2 separate regions of the Homo sapiens genome follow, and region 1 is linked to region 2. The links come from fine-mapping of genetic effects on gene expression. A gene starts in region 2. The other region holds a variant in brackets. All regions are shown on one strand. Distances are between the middles of the regions.

The links.
Region 1: its variant is fine-mapped to the expression of PIM3 in whole blood (INTERVAL, PIP 0.95).

The regions. Positions count from the first base shown.
Region 1 is chr22:49,935,166-49,939,534 of GRCh38, forward strand. No RefSeq gene overlaps it. Among named protein-coding and RNA genes, the nearest start is that of CRELD2, 19 kb to the left of the region's middle. RefSeq lists silencers at 1-227, 716-1,010, 787-1,326 and an enhancer at 738-1,577. The variant T/C (reference allele first, on the strand shown) is at 2,351.
Region 2 is chr22:49,958,645-49,963,013 of GRCh38, forward strand. PIM3 (Pim-3 proto-oncogene, serine/threonine kinase) reads left to right here and starts at 2,128. Exons shown (of 6, transcript NM_001001852.4): 1 at 2,128-2,388; 2 at 2,481-2,590; 3 at 2,674-2,724; 4 at 2,798-3,167; 5 at 4,045-4,221; 6 at 4,296-4,369. The coding sequence starts at 2,304. MIR6821 (microRNA 6821) reads left to right here and starts at 4,222; the gene lies at 4,222-4,295. RefSeq lists silencers at 1,101-1,160, 1,301-1,580, 1,621-2,260, 2,311-2,460, 2,601-2,650 and 2 more.

The DNA.
Region 1 (4,369 bases), 23 kb before region 2:
GGGGGCTGGTGGTCGCGGTGGGGGTGGGGAGCGGGCACCCACTGGGGATTCACCCCACCCGGGCCCCCCTCCAGCCTCTGCCCGGCGCCCGGGTCTTCGGTCCGCCCTTTGCAGAGGAAGGACCCCGCCCTGCGCAGAGCGGGCTTGGGGGACCCGGGCGGGCGGCGGGGCGCGGGGTGGGGCGCGGGGGGCGGTGTTGCTCCCGCGGGCGGGAAGGGCGGGGAGCGGCCCTGCCGGGAAGGGGGCGGTGCCGGAAGCGTCAGCTGGGCTTTCCCCGGCGGGCGGGGGCGGGGAGCAGATGGGGGCGCTACGAGGAGGTGGGGGGAGGGGACGCAATGGAGGTGCCGGGGGTGCGCTGAAGAGCGAGACTGGGGCAGGGGGATGAGGGTCTGGGAAGGAGCAGGTGTTGGGGACGGAGGGTGGGGGCGGGGAGTGGGGGCGCGGGGAGGAGCAGGGTGGGGGCGGAGGGGAGGATGGGGGTCCGGGAGGAGCAGGGGCGGGGACGGAGGGGAGGGTGGGGGTCCGGGAGGAGCAGGAGTGGAGGCGGAGGGGAGGGTGGGGATGTGGGAGGAGCAGGGGTGGGGCAAAGGGGAGGGTGGGGGGTTCAGGATGAGCAGGGGTTGGGGCGGAGGGGAGGGTGTGGGGGGTCCAGGAGGAGCAGGGGTAGGGGCGGAGGGGAGCCTGGGGGTCTGGGAGAAGGAGGGGTGCGGGGTGTGGGGCCTGGGGTGAGCAGGGGTGGGGGCGGAGGGGAGGGTGGGGGTCCGGGAGGAGCAGGGACGGAGGGGAGGGTGGGGGTCCGGGAGGAGCAGGGACGGAGGGGAGGGTGGAGGTCCGGGAGGAGCAGGGGTGGAGGGTGTGGGGCCTGGGCTGAGCATGGGAGGGGACCTGCAGCCCGTGCCCAGCCCCATAGGGACCCGCCCGCGCTCCTCCCCCGCCGCCCCGGCCCCGCGCTCCTCGTCGCTGGGAACCCCCTGCGGGAGCAATGACGATGAGCAGGACGATGGCTGTGAGGGCCCGGCCCGAGCTCTGGGGCGTGGGCCGGAGCGCGGTTGGCCTTGACCTTCTTGGAAAGCCCTTGGCGGCAGGTGACTCCGCTTAGTCACGGCCCCGGGGGCGGGGGCTCCCCGAAGGAAAGGAGCCCCCGCGGGAGCAGGCGCAGAATGAGATGCACGAGCGCCACCGCCGCCGCCGCACACCCCCCGCCCCCCCGGGGTGGAAGCCAGAACCTGCGTCCCCAGCTCCCCCAGGCCCGCCCACAGGGCGCCTGGCTGGGCCTCCGAGCTTTCCTGTTTTCTCTGCAGCCTGGCTGGGCTTAGGGAGAGGTGGGGGGTGCGCCTCTTGATGCTGGGGACGCGTGTGGCACAGGGAGCCGGGTGCAGCCAAGGCTTGGAGGGGTGCCCCCCGCCCCACCCAGGTCACACTTCACCCTTCGTGGGGTCGGGATCTGGTCTTTTTACAAGCTAGGCGCCCTCCCCCCTTTTTTTTTTTTTTTTTTTCTCAAAAATGATCACAGGGAATGAGCCTCAGCCAGGACAGCGGGCTATGAGGCTGCCTGTTGCCCCCACCAGCCTGAATTCTGGCAGGGCCCTTCTCCTCCACCCACAGCCCTCCATCCACACCCCTCCAGTGGCTCCAAGGCCCATCTGACTTGGCCTCAGTTCACCTGTTTACTTCAGGGACACCTGGTTATACTGCCAGAGGCAGGTTGGGGGGCCTGCAGGGCCGGCCTCTCTCAAATCCACTTCTGGCTCTGCGGTCCCCACAGCACTTCCTTACCCCTTCCCCATGCTGGAATCTGAGAACCAGATATGGGGGTCCTGGTCTCAGCATCCCTTTCCATCCGGGGTGCCCTGCTGCTGCCAGCTCACGTGCCCACCATCCCATCCTCCTCAGGGTCAGTGTGGCTGCAGAACGGCCTCCGGGGAGAGCAGGGTGGGGGCTGTAGCCTGGTGCACCCCCAGCCTGCTGTCCCAGGTGAATGCAGACCCCTGGCTCAGCTGCTGACCAGATAACAGTGGCCCTTGTGCCGAAGCCTGGGTGGGGGCTGGGGTACCAGCCCCGGGTGTCTCCGGGCACAGAATGGCACCCACCCCCACCCCACCCGCAGGCAGCGGCCAGCAGGAGACATTGTCCGTCCCCCTCAACCCTGGCTATTAATAGCTCCTCTGGGCTAGGAGCGGCTATAAATAGTCCCAGCCCCTCACACAGGCCCATTCAGGCACCCGCTGCCTGGGTGTGCACAGCAGCCACACTTGCGCTCACTCAGAGCTGTGCACGCGGGAACCGTGCCACTTCTGCCCCTCCACGCCATCTGCACTGCACAGATCCAGGCTGTCCCTGCAGCCCTCAC[T/C]GGGTCTCCTGTGGCAGGGGAGGGCCCTGAACCCTCTGGAGGCTTTTCCCTTGCCCCCTCCCGCCACGCCCAGGGTCCCCTTGGGGCTTCTAGCTACTCTAGGGTCTTGCTCTGGGGCTTCTGGAAGTCAGATGCATTCACCCAAAGCCAGCCTGGGGCGGGGGGAGGTCCACCTGGAGGGAGGCCCAGCCCCTGCAGAGACCTAAGCCTGGCCTCTGCCCCAAGCACTGCTGCCTCGGGCCATGAGGCTCACAGGGTCTCCTTAGCCCAAGGCTGGTCCAGCCTCCCACCTGCCCTGTGGGGCAGACGTCACTGAATTCCCACTCCTTGCCCTGGAGGCCTCATTGCCGTCAACTAGGCTATGGCCCCCACTGTGACTCCCACTCCCAGGGTGACAGAATGGGCACCTGGTCCAGGAAAGCCTGCTCTGTGGACCCCCTACCCGTCCACACTGTCCACGCCCCATGGCTAGTGGTGACAGGAGACAGGATGGGGGGCATGGGGGCTGCTGTTATTGTGTCCAGAGGAGAAAAGGAAAACAATCCTGTTTACGGAAAAGGAATGTCCGTCCACTGCCGCCAGCCAGTGGCCTTCCTGGGGGGACAGAGGCCCTTTGTTGGGAAAACAGGAAGCGAGGATTTCCAGGATCTGCCAGGCCGCCCGCCGGCCACCCGCCCCACTTCCGCCAATTCTCGGCAGCCTGCGCTGGCCACCAGCTGCCCGTCGGTCCATCCACGTTTCTGTCTATCCGTCTGACCGTGGGGCCCAGGCGTACAGCCTTAGCACATCCTGCTCTATGTGGTGCCTCAGTCACACAGGGACAAACACCCACAGGGTCCTCGCAGGGCCTGGGAGGGCTGCCTGGGAGCTGAGACCCAAGGAGTGAGGACCCGTGCCCCACATAGGGAAGGGCAGTGCCAGACATGGAGAAGGCGGATGGGGCAGGGGCCACGGGCCAGGAACCGGGGAGGCGGGAACAGCCAAAGGGAAGCTGTGCCAGACTCTCCCCTCCCCACCCAAGAGCCAGGGATGGTTTTGGGGTTAGGGGTCACTGTGTCCTTACTACCCAAACCCACTTACAGTCCATGGCCCACGCGATGCTCGCCTGTCACTGACCCGGGACAGCATGGGCTCACTCGTGCATGAACACCAGACGTGTGTACACTCAGCGGACACTCACCTGTGCACACACAGCACACACGTGCACACACCACGGACACTCTGACCTGTGCACACACAGCACACACGTGCACACTCAGCGGACACTCACCTGTGCACACACAGCACACACGTGCACACACCAGCACCCCCCAGCACGGATGCAGGCACCGTCATGAGCACGGAGACCACCCCAGGACACCAGCAGCTGCACCCCCCGGCGGGGCTGCACTGGCCGACAGTGCCCAGGGGACTGCTCCCAGCCCCTGTGGGGGGCTTCTGTGATTCTGTGTGGGTTCCTGTGTGCCCTGTTTGGGCTCTCACCGGTCAGAGGGGGCTGGCACAGTGCCTGTGACCTCAGTCCTGGGCAGGGCCAGGAGGTGCCAGGAGCAGGCAGGCCTGGGGCAGGACTCTGTTTAGGGCCAGCTGGAGGACCCTCTGCCCCCACCTCCACATCCCAAGTCGGCAGCTTCCTCCCACTGTGGTGGTGATACAGGAGATAGAAAGAAATTATTTAGGTAGATAATGAGGGCAAAAGAGTCCTCAGCAGAACCTCCCTTCTAACAAAAAGCAGGCCCGGGCGAGGTGGCTCACAGCTGTAATCACAGCACTTTGGGAGGCCAAGGCGGGCGGATCACCTGAGGTCAGGAGTTCCAGACCAGCCTGGCCAACATGGTGAAACGTCTCTACTAAAAATACAAAAATTAGCCAGGCATAGTGGCGGGTGCCTGTAATCCCAGCTACTTGGGAGGCTGAGGCAGGAGAATCGCTTAAACCTGGGAGGCGGAGGTTGCCGTGAGCCGAGATCGCAGCACTGCACTCTCAGCCTGGGCAACAGAGAGAGACTCTGTCTCCACACAA
Region 2 (4,369 bases):
GGCCGTGGAGGACAGGCACACCGTGCTTTCTGAAGGAGCAAGTCCTCCTGGATCTTAGTTAAGGGACACTTGAGGGTTTCAGAGCAAGACCCGGGGCCTAGGGAGAGCCAGGGTGGGGTGCCTGCCCGCCAGAGCCTGGTCTTCTACGGCCAGGATGACTCAGGGAAGACTGGCCTGGAGCCTGACATGTCAGACTCAAGGAAGACTAGCCTGACATGTCAGGCTGAGGACCCTCGCCCCTCCAGACTGACATGAACTCAACTGTAGTGGTCACCCCCTAGACCTACCGTGCTCTCCAGCATCTCTGCCCACCTCTGCTGCGTGTCCAGCACAGAAGAGGGCAGCCCCACTGGACCCTCAGGTAGGTCCCCGGGAGGACCCACATGGGCAGCAGCCCCTCCTCCTTCGCAGGTGCTGTGTGGATACTGCTGGAGGGGAAGGCTTGGGGTGTCATCCTACCAGGGATCTGATCTCGGGGGAGCCCTGTGCTGGGTGCGTGGTGGGTGGGGGAAGGCTAACCCACCAGCCCCAACCCTGCCCTCGTACTGCGGGAGAGAACTGGACAGAGCTCTGGGAAGCAGCGGCTGGAGGGGGAGGGGCCTGGGGACAAACAATGTCGCGTTGGCTTTGATCCTCAGGACCCAAGGGACAGGAAGAGATGAGCTAGGCAAGAGAGGAGCCCCCAGGAGCACAGGCATGGGCCCAGGCAGCGGGCGACGAAGCGAGCCCCAGAGGGCGCCCAGATGGCAGGTGGGCCTGGGCCAGTCCCGAGAGCCACAGCCTCAGAAGAGCTGAACAGGGGAGTGGTGTGTGAGTGGTCAGCGCAGGGACAGCGATGGTGACTGTATAGAGATGAGAGGTCAGACTTAGGGGAGGCTGGAAGCTCCGAGGCAAGTGTGTGTGCGCGCTGACGGTCACACCAGACCGCCCGGGGATGTCTGCCACAATATTTAGACCCCTGAGGGCCACTGAGAACGCCTGGCAGTGCCAAGAGGACCAGCCCCTGGGCCCTCTGGCCCCCAACTCTCAACCCACTAGCCCTGGGGCTGGCGGGTGGCCACTCACGTCCTGGAACCCTGAGCTGCTCTCAGGCCGGTGACTTTGGACCAATGTTGGCAATCTGTGGGTTTGCACCAAACCACACAGGTGAGTCAGACTTCTGTACAGAGAGCAGGGAAGGGGCACGACAGGGTGAAGTCCAGACCAGGGCAATGTGTACCCCGGCTGTTCAGCCTTTGAGTGCGGCTGTCGCAGCAATCAAGGTGGGCTCCCTGGTGGAGGTGGACAGCAGCTGCTGGAGAGCCCGGAGGGCAGCCAGGACCGTGTCAGACGGCAGGAGTCGGGCGGGGCCACTCCAGGCACCGGCCAGCAGGGCAGAGGTACCAGGGAGGGCCCTCGGGCTGCGGGCGTGAGGTCAGAGCCCAGGGTGAGGAGGAAGCATCTCCAGCCAGGTGCGCTCTCGGCCCCCGCCGGGGCTGCGAGGCTGGGGGCGCTGCCGCTGCGAGGGCTTCCAGAGGAGCCGGCGCTACCTCCCCGCGCGCCCGGCCACGTGCGCGACGGGATGCGCAGACAGCCGGGGACGCAGACTGGCGGCGTGTGTCACCTCGAGGCCGCGGGACAAGCGCAGGTCGCCTCCCGCACTCCCACACCCCCAGGAACCCTGCTCGGGGCCGGCGGGTGACCTTCCTAGGCACTGCTGGGGGCGGAGCCAGGAAACGGCTCGCCCCGCCATTGGCTGGGGCGCCGGATTTCTTTAAAAACTCCGGCTTCCATTGGCTCGTGCAGTCCCTCCTCGTTCTGCCCGAGGCGCCACGGCCGCCACCCGCGCGGGCACTGCGCCTGCGCGGAGTGAGAGCGTGAGCGCGGAGAGCGGACCGACGCGACACGCCGTGCGCCTCCGCGGCTGCGCTACGAAAACGAGTCCCGGAGCGGCCCCGCGCCCGCCGCACCCGGCCCTCGCCCGCCCGAAGACAGGCGCCAAGCTGCCCCGCCGTCTCCCCAGCTAGCGCCCGGCCGCCGCCGCCTCGCGGGCCCCGGGCGGAAGGGGGCGGGGTCCCGATTCGCCCCGCCCCCGCGGAGGGATACGCGGCGCCGCGGCCCAAAACCCCCGGGCGAGGCGGCCGGGGCGGGTGAGGCGCTCCGCCTGCTGCGCGTCTACGCGGTCCCCGCGGGCCTTCCGGGCCCACTGCGCCGCGCGGACCGCCTCGGGCTCGGACGGCCGGTGTCCCCGGCGCGCCGCTCGCCCGGATCGGCCGCGGCTTCGGCGCCTGGGGCTCGGGGCTCCGGGGAGGCCGTCGCCCGCGATGCTGCTCTCCAAGTTCGGCTCCCTGGCGCACCTCTGCGGGCCCGGCGGCGTGGACCACCTCCCGGTGAAGATCCTGCAGCCAGGTACGCGCGGGGCCGGCGGGGCCGGGGCCGGGGCCAGGGCGGGGACCGGGGGCGCCCCGGGCCGCACCAACCCCGCCCGCGCCTCCCTGCAGCCAAGGCGGACAAGGAGAGCTTCGAGAAGGCGTACCAGGTGGGCGCCGTGCTGGGTAGCGGCGGCTTCGGCACGGTCTACGCGGGTAGCCGCATCGCCGACGGGCTCCCGGTGAGTCGGACCGCCGGGCGGGCCCGGGTTTCTCGCGCGCCTTGCGCCTCGCTTGGCCCGGCCTGACCCCCGCGTCTCCGCAGGTGGCTGTGAAGCACGTGGTGAAGGAGCGGGTGACCGAGTGGGGCAGCCTGGTAAGTTGGGGCACGGGCGGCGGCGGCGGCGGGGGGCGGGCGCGGGGCTTTTGCTGACCGCCGTGTCCCCCAGGGCGGCGCGACCGTGCCCCTGGAGGTGGTGCTGCTGCGCAAGGTGGGCGCGGCGGGCGGCGCGCGCGGCGTCATCCGCCTGCTGGACTGGTTCGAGCGGCCCGACGGCTTCCTGCTGGTGCTGGAGCGGCCCGAGCCGGCGCAGGACCTCTTCGACTTTATCACGGAGCGCGGCGCCCTGGACGAGCCGCTGGCGCGCCGCTTCTTCGCGCAGGTGCTGGCCGCCGTGCGCCACTGCCACAGCTGCGGGGTCGTGCACCGCGACATTAAGGACGAAAATCTGCTTGTGGACCTGCGCTCCGGAGAGCTCAAGCTCATCGACTTCGGTTCGGGTGCGCTGCTCAAGGACACGGTCTACACCGACTTCGACGGTGAGCGCGGGCGCGGGGCAGGGAACGTTCCGGGGGCCTTGCCGGCGGGTTAACGCCTGCAGGGGCGGCACATGGAGGGGCTGATGACTGTTGGGCGGCCGCGCGCCCTGGGTCTGCTCTCGTGGGGAGCAGAGGCCCACGCGCTACCCTGGGGAGGGCTGAGCGAGGGATCAAGAGCGGGATCGTGCTGGGTGGGGGCTAGGGGCGCGCTCAATATTGCTTCCTCCATCGCGTTGGGGGGTACGGGGCCTCTTGCCCCGGTGTGGGAGGCGCGTGACATCCTTCCGGCCCGAGAGACCCCCGGCTGGGGGCGGTAGCGGAGGAGTCTCCGTGCGTGACGCAGGGCGCAGCCGGGCTGGGTCTGCGCCGGGAGCCTGGAGGCCCCCGCGGCGCGGTTGGAGTGGCGGGGCCTCCCCTGCGTGGGGGCGGGAGCTGCGTGCGTGCGGAGCGCGGGGGCGCGGCGGCAGAAATCCCCGCATTGCGGAGCTTGGGGAAGCCGGGGCTCCCCGCCCGCCCCTCCCTCCTCCCTCCCTCTCTCCCCTCCCCCCGTTCCCGCAGGCAGGCGCGCCGGGCGGTAAGGGACCCGCGCTGTCCCCCCCCCACCCAGGTAGCCTCACAGCGCATCTGTTTGTTGTGAAAGCCGAGCTCTTACTCATGTGACCTGCTCCTCCCCCGCGGCCGGCGGAGGGGGACGGCCGGCCCCTCCCCCAGCCCCCCCATCGCCTGCCGGGGTTTTTCCAGGGTGATGACGAGCAGGATTTTGAGGCCTGGCTCTGCTTCCTGTTACTGAGGCCAGGGAGTTAACCAGCAGGGACCTCGCCGTCTGTTGAGCGGCTCTGCCTCTGTGGTGGGCGTGCTAAGCCCTGTGTCCCCTTAGGCACCCGAGTGTACAGCCCCCCGGAGTGGATCCGCTACCACCGCTACCACGGGCGCTCGGCCACCGTGTGGTCGCTGGGCGTGCTTCTCTACGATATGGTGTGTGGGGACATCCCCTTCGAGCAGGACGAGGAGATCCTCCGAGGCCGCCTGCTCTTCCGGAGGAGGGTCTCTCCAGGTGCGTGGTGGCTCGAGGCGGGGGTGGGGGCCTCGCCCTGCTTGGGCCCTCCCTGACCTCTCCGCTCCGCACAGAGTGCCAGCAGCTGATCCGGTGGTGCCTGTCCCTGCGGCCCTCAGAGCGGCCGTCGCTGGATCAGATTGCGGCC